Linked DNA regions of Homo sapiens. The protein of the gene in region 1 interacts with the protein of each later gene in a biochemical or structural test. Each region holds a gene or a part of one and is shown on either strand. Other genes may lie near its edges. The genes, in order: RAP1B and RGL2.

Region 1 (2,798 bases):
TTCAAGTGAAAGAGTAGAGTAGAACTGAGTCCAGAACTAGATTCCAGTATATGACGTTTATACGTGACAAAAATATATTTCTTTTTCTTTCTTTTTTTTTTTTTTTTTTTTGAGACAGTTTCCCTCTTGTTGCCCAGACTGGAGTATAATGGCACGATCTTGGTTCACCACAACCTCCGCCTCCCAGGTTCAAGTGATTCTCCTGCCTCAGCCTCCCGAGTAGCTGGGATTACAGGCATGTGCCACCACGCCTGGGCTAATTTTGTATTTTAGTAGAGATGGGGTTTCTCCATGTTGGTCAGGCTAGTTGCGAACTCCCAACCTCAGGTCATCTGCCCGCCTCAGCCTCCCAAAGTACTGGGATTACAGGTGTGAGCCACTGTGCCCGGCCGACAAAAATATATTTCAATAGAAAATAGTATCAGTAAAATGCTAGCACAACTAACTATCTGTCTAAAGACAATAAAAGTTCAACCCCTATATCATGCAAAAAGCACTTTCCAGATATATTAAAATGTTTTCAAGCTATAAAGTAAAACAGTAGAAGTCTTAGAAGAAAATCTAAGAGACTAGAAATCTAGAGATAGGGTAGACCTTCTTAGCTAATTTTTAAAAATGAAGCTATATTTAAGATATATATTTCAAGTAAATAATAAGTGTGTGTGTGTGTACACACAGATGCTTCTCAGCTTACAATGGGGTTATGTCCCAATAAGCCCATCAGAAGTCAAAAATGTAAGTCGAAAATGCATTTAATACCCTGATAAATCCATCACAAAGCTGAAAAATTATAAGTAAAACTGTAAGTCACAGACTGTATATATAAATTTAAAATTTGGCAAAATATATTGCAAAGTCAAATTTGGGAAAGTATAGCACAGATAAAAGATTAAACTATTCACGGCCAGGCACGGTGGATCATGCCTGTAATCCCAACACTTTGGGAGGCCGAGGCGGGTGGATCACCTGAGGTCAGGAGTTTGAGACTAGCCTGGCCAACGTGGAGAAACCCCATCTCTACTAAAAATACAAAATTAGCTGGGTGTGGTGGTGCATGCCTGTAATCCTAGCTACTCAGGAGGCTGAGGCAGGAGAATTGCTTGAACCTAGGAGGCGAAAGTTGCAGTGAGCCAAGATGGTGCCATTGCACTCCAGCCTGGGCAACAAGAGTGATACTCCGTTTAAAAAAAAAAAAAAAAAAAAAGGTAAACTATTCAAAAGATAAATGGTTGAAAGATATATAACTAGGCAGTTTAGATAAGAACAAATCCAAATGGCCCATCAACATAAAAAGATGCTCTAACTGTAGCCAGAGAAATACGAATCAAAGTACCAACGAGCCCAACACATGGACGAAAACTTCAGAGAACACTACAGTCCCAGAAGAGAGGTAAAGGGCAAGAAATGAATCATTTATTGCTGATGGAAATGTGCATTGTAGAGCTGATATCTGTTCAAATTAAATATGCATATTTGACCTCAATTCTACTACTGATATCTACACCAAGGAAATGAAAGGAAATGCACAAGATTATTTATTGCCACACTCTAGAAGGAAAAACAGAGTGCATGCCCATCAATAGAATAGTTGAATAAATTATGATTCATGCATAATATAGAACATTATGCATTCATTTAAAAATGAGTTTGATGTTTAAAGGTTGACTTAGAAGGATTCCCGTGCAAAGTGAACAAAACAGAATACCGAGAAGGATGTATGTGAGGGATGCATGTGGGCACCTGGGAAAGGAGATGAAGAAAGCAACTGAAGGATATTTACCAAGTTGTTAATATGCATTACCTGACATGGTGATATAGGAGTAGGGGTGAGGAAGTGAAGGATCTGAGTAGGTGGAAAAAGAAAAGCAAAAGTACAACAGCGGGAGAAAAAACAGGATGACTCGTCTAGAAGAGACATTGTCAGTAACAAGTAAATAACATTTTCTGGAATATAAAAAAAAAAGCTATATGAATGTCATCATTATATGTAAAATATGAATGTAAAATACATGGGAGGATAATATGCATTAATAAAAATTATGGTGCTGGCAACAGTATCATGGATGACTGTATTATTATTTCCTTTTCCTTAACATTGTTATGCTATCTTTGAGTAAAATTAATTTTAGAAATTTAAAAATAATTGTCATTATACTTAAACCTTATATTTAAACAAGAAAATAATTCAAAAAACCAAAGCAGTTTAACTTTCTTTCATTACCTGAAATTCAGCCTTTTTACACAGCTAGAGAACTTCAGTTGATCTTGTGAAGGACAAAGAAGCAGAAAGACTTCTCTAGGATGTTGGGTTTCCTAAAAGTTAAACTCAATCATTTAAAGTTGCAAATAGGTAGGCAGGATGGATTCTGAAGCACAGATTTCCCAAATGCCCTTTTTGCAGCAGATTCAGCTTCTAAACAAGTTTCAAGGGCAATGTTCATGATAGACGCAACTTTTTCTTAACATTATATTGCATTGTCAATATGTATTCCATCATTTTATGCTTTTCAATGCACTTCCATTTATAAAAGCCGCATAGTTTGCTCTTATATGCCAATATGTTTGTAGCTCAAAATATACTTGAAATATTTTAAGTCCGTTTGTGCTCTTGATTTATGAACTAAATATACTACATTTTCCATTGTTAAAATAACACCTTGGCTAGGTGTGGTGGCTCATGCCTATAATCCCAGTGCTTTGGGAGGCTGAGGCAAGAGGATCACTTGAGCCCAGGAGTTCAAGACCAGCCTGGGCAACATAGGGAGACTCTAGCTCTACAAAAAATTTAAAAATTAGCT
Region 2 (7,727 bases), on another chromosome or scaffold:
TCTAATAATTCTGGTCCCTTATCTGAAATGCTTGGGTCAGAAGTGTTTTTGGATGTTGGATTTTTTCAGACTTTGGAATATTTGCATATATTTAATATCTTTGGGATCAGACCCAAATCTAAACACAGAAATCATTTATGTTTCCTATACACCTTATACACATGGCCTGAAGATTTTTTTCCTTCTCTTTTTTTTTGAGACAGAGTCTCTGTCGCCCAGGCTGGGGTGCAATGGTGCGATCTCGGCTCACTGCAACCTCCACCTCCCAGGTTCAAGCGATTCTCCTGCCTTAGCCTCCCGAGTAGTTGGGATTACAGGCACCCACCACCACGCCTGGCTAATTTTTGTATTTTTAGTAGAGACGGGGTTTCACCATGTTGGTCAGGCTGGTCTCGAACTCCCGACCTCAGGTGATCCGCCCGCTGCCTTGGCCTCCCAAAGCGTTGGGATTACAGGTGTGAACCGCTGCACCCGACCACAATATTTTTAATAATATATGTGACCCATCACATGAGGGCAGCTGTGGGATTTTCCACTTGTGGCATCATGTTGGCACTAAAAAAATTTCAGGTTTTGGAACATTTCAGATTTTAGAGTTTTGGATCGGCGATGCTCAACCTGTACATCCAAAATATTATTGCAACATGTAAACAATATAAGAAATTACAGGCCGGGTGCGATGGCTCATGCCTGTAATCCCTGCACTTTGGGAGGCCGAGGCGGGAGGATCACCTGAGGTCAGGAGTTCAAGACCAGCTTAGCCAACATGATGAAACCCCATCTCTACTAAAAATACAAAAAATTAGCCAGATGTGACGGCACCTGTAATCCCAGCTACTCGGGAGACTGGGGCAGGAGAATCGCTTGAACCTGGGAGGCAGAGGTTGCAGTGAGCTGAGATCACACCATTGCACTCCAGCCTGGGTGACAAAAGGAAAACTTCGTCTCAACAACAAAAAAAAAAGAAAAAGAAATTACAGTCTTGGCCAGGTGCGTTGGTTCACGCCTGTAATCCTAGCACTTTGGGAGGCTGAGGAGGGCGGATCACCTGAGGTCAGGAGTTCAAGACCAGCCTGGCCAACATGGTGAAACCCCGTCTCTACTAAAAATACAGAAAAATTAGCCGGGCATGGTGGTGCACACCTGTAATCTCAGCTACTCAGGAGGCTGAGGCAGGAGAATTGCTTGAACCTGGGAGGTGGAGGTTGCAGTGAGCCGAGATCGCACCACTGCACTCCAGCCTGGGCAACAGAGTGAGGCTCTGTCTCAAAAAACAAAACAAAACAAAACAAAACAAATTAGCTGGGCATGGTGGCACACAGCTATAGTCCCAGCTACTTGGGGAGCTGTGGCAGAAGGATCGCTTGAATCTGGGAGGGTGAGGCTGCAATGAGCTAAGGTTGTCCCACTGTACTCCAGCCTGGGTGACAAAGTGAGACCCTGTCTCAAAAAAAAAAAAAAAAAAAGAAAGAAAAGAAAATAAATTGCAGCCCTTTTCTCACCTTAAGTATTCAAACACAGGTGTTTATTTTAAATAGTCAGCACATCTCAATTCGGACTAGCCACATATCAAATGCTCAATAGCCTAATGTGGGTGGTGGCTGTCATATTGGACAGCGGAGCCTGAGAGGACTTTTAGGAGGATTAAGGAAGACAGTGTATCTCCTTAAGAAGATGCAGGAGATACAGCACTCAGCAGTGTCTGGAGGGCAGAAAATATTAGCCTCATCCTTCTCCCATCATCTGTGCCCATGATAGTTTATATGTCTCTAAACTGACCATGTACACCTCAACTGCCTTTTAATATCCTGAATTCCTCACCACCTTCCTCTCTTCCAGAAAGCAGAGTGAGGGCACTCACTGCCATCCTGTGGAAGCCACCATCATCTCTGGCCCAAGCTTCTGTAGTAGCTCCCTAAAATAATACCCTATCATCTGCTCCTAATCCCTCCAATCTCTCTCCACTGAGTGGCTGGAATGCTTTTTTTTTTTTCTTTCACTTATATAAGGGATAATTTTTCTTTTTTTTTTTTTTTTGAGACGGAGTCTCACTCTTCCGCCCAGGCTGCAGTGCAGTGGCATGATCTTGGCTTACTGCAACCTCCGCCTCCTGGGTTCAAGCAATTCTGTGGCTTCAGCCTCCGGAGTAGCTGGGATTACAGGCACATGCCACCACACCCAGTGAATTTTTGTATTTTTAGTAGAGACGGGGTTTCACCATGTTGGCCAGGCTGGTCTTGAATTCCTGACCTCAGGTGATCTGCCCACCTCAGCCTCCCAAAGTGCTGGGATTACAGGCGTGAGCCACCACACCAGGCCCGAGAAATGCTTTTTTAAAAAACACACATCTTATGGCATTCACCTTCTTGGAGCTCTAGGACAGTGGTTCTCAAAATTTTTTTCTCTCAGGACCTCTTAAAAATCATCAAGGACCCCAAAAAGCTTTTGGGTATGTGGGTTATAGCTATCAATATTTATGGTACTAGAACTTAAAAGTGAGAAAAATTTAAAACACGAGAATACATAGGCACACATTCTATTCATCGTGGGAACCATGGTGTCAATACATATCATGTAGCTTCTGAAAAACTCCACTGTACACTTATAGAATGAAGAAGGCAAAAAACTTTTTTTTTTTTTTTTTTGAGACGGAGTCTCGCTCTGTCGCCCAGGCTGGAGTGCAGTGGCGCGATCTCGGCTCACTGCAAGCTCCGCCTCTCGGGTTCACGCCATTCTCCTGCCTCAGCCTCCCAAGTAGCTCGGACTACAGGCGTCCTCCACCATGCCTGGCTAATATTTTGTATTTTTTAGTAGAGACGGGGTTTCACCGTGTTAGCCAGGATGGTCTCGATCTCCTAACCTGGTGATCCGCCCGCCTCGGCCTCCCAAAGTATTGGGATTACCCGCGTGAGCCACCGCGCCCGGCTGCAAATAATCTTTCTTTTTTTCTGAGACAGAGTCTCGCTCTGTTGCCCAGGCTGGAGTGCAGTGGCACGATCTCGGCTCACGGCACGCTCCGCCTCCCGGGTTCACGCCATTCTCCTGCCTCAGCTTCCCGAGTAGCTGGGACTACAGGGGCCCGCCACCACGCCCGGCTAACTTTTTGTGTTTTTAGTAGAGACGGGGTTTCACCGTGTTAGCCAGGATGGTCTCGATCTCCTGACCTTGTGATCTGCCCGCCTCGGCCTCCCAAAGTGCTGGGATTACAGGCGTGAGCCACCGCGCCCGGCGGCGAAACACGATATTGTACTAACATCTTAATTTTGTTATAAAATCTCACAAACCCCCTGACATAGTCTCAGAGATCTGTAGGGCCGAGGTTACATTTGGAGAACCCGTACTCTAGGGCCAAATCCATTCTTCTTGCCCTGGCTCACTTGTCCCCCCCACCGCCCCGCGCTGGAGCCACTGCCTAGTTCTTCAGCCCTAGATGGTGCTCGCCAGACCTCCTCTCAATGCTCATCACACACAGGGCTATTCCTTTCCTCCAATGAACCAAACGCCTCCCGCCCACCTCCAGGTCCCAGTCCTCTGTTCCCTTTGCCTGGTCCACCCTTGCCCTCCCTGGGTCGCAGACGAGGTCGGCCTCGTCATTCCCCGCAGACCGCCGCGCGTCCCTCTTGTGCGGTTCACCACAGTTGTATTTAAGTGATCGTGTGAGTCGTCGTTAAATGCCTGTCTCCCCGCGGATCATGGGCTCCTCGAGGACAGGGACTGGCCTGTCTGTCCACTGCTGTAACCCCGCGCCGGCATAGGGACCTAAGGCCCACTGGAGGGCGCTCATCAAGTAGCTGCTGGATGTTGACGAAGGAAGCGGCGGCGCAGCTCAGGGATCTCCGAGTCAGGACGGTCGGCCAGACCCACGGGGTAACGGGTCTAATCGTGTAGGAATAAAGCTGTATTCCAGTGCTTCCAAACGGTTCTCTCATTCCAACCCCTTTCCAAGCTCAATGAATATTCCAATCACCTCTGGTCCCTTCCAGTGACCCTGAACCGCTCAGAGAACGCCCCGTCGACACCGTTCGGGGCGGGCGCCACTACTGGCGCATGAGATGCGCTCAAGCAGAGGGTACTCCACCAGCGAGGATACACCGAGCCGACGGGGATCTCGGTCTCGGCGCCGGAAGCCTCTGAGAGCCGAATCTGGAACCGGATGTGGCTGCTTCCTGCCCCGCCCCCTGCCGAGGGGGCGGGAATCGAGGGCCCTTCGGAAAACCCGGCCGGGATTTCGGTCAGCTACATTCGTGGGTTGTGGTAGGGAGGGTAATCCCGTGGGGATGGAGTGACCGGCTCTCTCTCCGCCTGAAACGCTTCCCGCGGGAGTTTTAGCCGTGTTATTGTTGGGGAAGGGAATGTCAAATTCTGCTCCTGCCTTCCCCCAGGGGCTGGAGACTGGAATCTTTATTCCAGTTCATTGCGGGTCGACGTGGTCTCCAGAATCCCCGAGTGTAGAGGCGGAGGACAGTGGAGCTGGGGACTCGGGCGCCTGGGTCCTGGTCCCTGAGCGTCCAGCGCTCCCCTAGTCCGCGGCCCTGGCTCCTGTCCTCACTTCCTTCCCCTTTTGGCTCCTGCTCTCGGAGCGGGCGGACGCGGGGGGGAGCGGAAAGGGCGGGAGGGCCCAGGAGCCCGGCGGGGGGGTTCAAGGGGGTACGGAAAAGCCGGGGAGGGGACTCGGTCCGGGGCCGGAGACCGACGGCAACAGCGGCTCAGGACCCACGCTGCCCCCACCCCTCCCGAGCAGGTCAGAGCCTGAGCACCCTGCGCGTCCCCGTACTCGTGACCTCCTCCTTCCCCAACAGCACCAAGGGCCCCCCTATTCCACCCTTCTGTTGCCCCCTCCCCCAACCTTCCTGCAGAACTCCCTTCCGGTCTTCTTGACACCCACCCACGTCCCTTCCCTGCCCGGTTCCCCCGCGCCTGCCTGACTCTCCACCCCCACCCCACCCCGTCTCTCCCCAGGCGCCCCCATGGCCCGACCCCGCTGATTCCTTCACTCGGCCATGCTCCCGCGGCCCCTGCGGCTGCTTTTGGACACGAGCCCCCCCGGGGGAGTCGTACTGAGCAGCTTCCGAAGCCGGGACCCCGAAGAGGGTGGGGGCCCAGGTGGCCTGGTCGTGGGCGGGGGGCAGGAGGAAGAGGAGGAGGAAGAAGAAGAGGTGAGACGCGGGTGGTGGGAGGTAGGGGGCGTATGTATTTCTGAAGTCTCCACTTTTCTCTTGTCTCTGGGTCCCTACATCTCCTCCTCCTTGCCTCAGTTATTCTCGCGCCTCCCTGGGTGTCGGCCCGTTTCTCTGCTGCGGGGAGTCCTGGCGTCTCCGTGGTTCTCTGTCAGTGTGACTCAGGACCTGCCCGCAGGAACCTGCCCTGTTCCTGCCTGGAACTTCTGGCTGGCTGTCCTGTCCCTGCGGGTCTTTGGCCCTCCACCTCTGCCTGCCTGAGTGTGCCTACCTCTCTGAGCAGTCGTGTCTTGGTCCCTGTCTCCCTCCTTGTTTTTGTTTGGCGGGGAGGGGTTTGTTTCCACAGTAACCAGCTCCTCTGACTCTGGGATTGGGGAGGGAACCCTCAGATTTCGTGACCCCTCCTTCCCTCTCTCCCCCTTCCCCCCGCCCCCCCGCCCCGCCCCGGTCCTGGGTAGAGGCCGGGAAGCCACGGTTCTGGGACCTGGAGGAAAGATCCTAGGGTGGGTAGAGAGTGGTCATCTGTTTTCATTAGGGATTAATGGTGGTGGCCAGGAGCAGGATTTCGGGCCTCAGGAGGGGCCAGAATTTGGATTTGGGGCCCCGAGGCCCTAAACTCCTAGGTCCAGATCCTAGGTGAGGGCAGGTTGACTGGCAGGGCTGGTTTTTCGGGATCGGTCGGGGGAGGGGCTGGGGCCACGTGACTCTCTGAGTCTACCGCCCCCAACCCCCTATCATCCCACTTCCCCTTTTCCTTCCTGTACTGGGATTGGAGCTGCTACCTTCGGGGGTCCCTTAGGGCTGAGATAGTGGAGGCGCTACCCGAGGGACCAGGGTGAAAGGGGTCCTGAAAAAGACTAATTCTCTGGGCTGGTATAGTCCTTGGCCGGGAGGGGCGGGGCATGCGGCAGTGCCTGGACTGAGGTTTCAGCTACCCCTAGTCGCTGCCTCTGGCTTGCTGCCTCTCGCTTCCCTCTCCTGCCCTTTGTACCCTGCTTCTCTGTCGTGTGTGGGTTCAGCTCTGGGGAGAAGGGGCTTTGGGGGTCTCCAGGATCAGAATTCCTGTACTCCATCCACGCCTCCACTGCAGCCCCTTCGACTCCACCGGGGCCCTGAGGCGGCTGGGGTGGGGCTGTCTGGGCCCCAGTGGGGGAGACCTGGGGTCACCAGCTCCCCCAACCCTTCCTCGCACTCGCTGGTACTATGCCCTGCCACCACAGGTGAGGGGTACAGAGGGAGGAGCAGGGCCTGGGGTGAAGGCTGAGGGCAATGGGGGGTGGTGTGGAACTGTCTGACTTCCCCTTCCTTGCTCCTCCAGGCCCCTGTGTCCGTCTGGGATGAGGAGGAGGATGGTGCCGTGTTTACCGTCACAAGCCGCCAATATCGACCTCTTGATCCCTTGGTGAGATCATGACTTTAGCTTCTCACCTCTGACTCTTCATTCCCAGTTTTCCTTCCTCTGGCTGACTTTCTGGCCAGAGTGCTAGGTTGGAGTTCTGGAGTCCTGGACTCTGCTGTGTGACATAGGCCAAGACTCTTGCCCTCTCTGAATATCAGAAAAATGAGTCTGGAACATCTCCTGGGTCTGGGATTGTCCTCAGAAATCTAGGTGCAGAGTGGGAGAAAGGGTTAGCGATCATCTCTCTGTGTTCTCCAGGTCCCTATGCCTCCCCCACGTTCCTCCCGACGGCTCCGAGCTGGCACTCTGGAGGCCCTGGTCAGACACCTACTGGATACCCGGACATCAGGGACTGATGTGAGCTTCATGTCAGCCTTCCTGGCTACCCACCGGGCCTTCACCTCCACGCCTGCCTTGCTAGGGCTTATGGCTGACAGGTCAGAGTCATAAGGGACGCAGGGTAGTGGAGTATCTGCCCGGATTTCCTAAAGCCGCAACATCCCACCAAAATAGTCAAAGCCACTGAGGGTTTGGGAAAAATGGACAGATAGATCCTCTTCTCCCCCTCAGGCTGGAAGCCCTTGAATCTCATCCTACCGACGAACTAGAGAGGACAACAGAGTGAGTGACCCCTGGTTCTTAATCTCACAGTCCCCTCTGCCCAGGCTGCAGCTTTACCTCTCACCCTTGGCTGATTCCCTTCTCCCAGGGTAGCCATCTCTGTACTGTCAACCTGGCTGGCCTCTCACCCTGAGGATTTTGGCTCTGAGGCCAAGGGTCAGCTTGACCGGCTTGAGAGCTTCTTACTTCAGACAGGGTATGCAGCAGGGAAGGGTGTTGGGGGGGGCAGCGCTGACCTCATCCGCAATCTCCGGTCCCGGGTGGACCCCCAGGCCCCCGACCTTCCTAAGCCCCTGGCCCTCCCCGGCGATCCCCCTGCTGACCCCACGGATGTCCTGGTGTTCCTCGCTGACCACTTGGCCGAACAGCTGACCCTGCTAGATGCGGTGAGACCCTGACCTCTGGCCCCTATGCCCCCTGACCCCTTACTAACCTCTCCTTGACTCCAGATCCTTTCCTTGCTTCCACCCCTTCCTGATCCAGCTCCTAGCCTCCTCCACCTACCATTTTGATTCTCCCCTTTTCCCTTT

What was found.
Region 2: the proteins of RAP1B (region 1) and RGL2 form a complex in vitro, tested with the Homo sapiens proteins (one study listed by BioGRID).

What each region holds. Positions count from the first base shown.
Region 1 is NC_000012.12:68,669,845-68,672,642, forward strand, and holds the end of RAP1B (ras-related protein Rap-1b isoform 1 precursor), read left to right. Parts: 3' UTR 1-2,057; downstream 2,058-2,798. UniProt on the Homo sapiens protein: GTP-binding protein that possesses intrinsic GTPase activity. Contributes to the polarizing activity of KRIT1 and CDH5 in the establishment and maintenance of correct endothelial cell polarity and vascular lumen.
Region 2 is NC_000006.12:33,295,884-33,303,610, reverse strand, and holds the start of RGL2 (ral guanine nucleotide dissociation stimulator-like 2), read left to right. Parts: upstream 1-4,668; 5' UTR 4,669-4,741; intron 4,742-4,959; 5' UTR 4,960-5,000; coding exon 5,001-5,156; intron 5,157-5,613; exon of another isoform or gene 5,614-5,718; coding exon of another isoform or gene 5,719-5,813; intron 5,814-6,267; coding exon of another isoform or gene 6,268-6,397; intron 6,398-6,495; coding exon 6,496-6,579; intron 6,580-6,834; coding exon 6,835-7,013; intron 7,014-7,146; coding exon 7,147-7,197; intron 7,198-7,285; coding exon 7,286-7,583; intron 7,584-7,727. UniProt on the Homo sapiens protein: Probable guanine nucleotide exchange factor. Putative effector of Ras and/or Rap. Associates with the GTP-bound form of Rap 1A and H-Ras in vitro.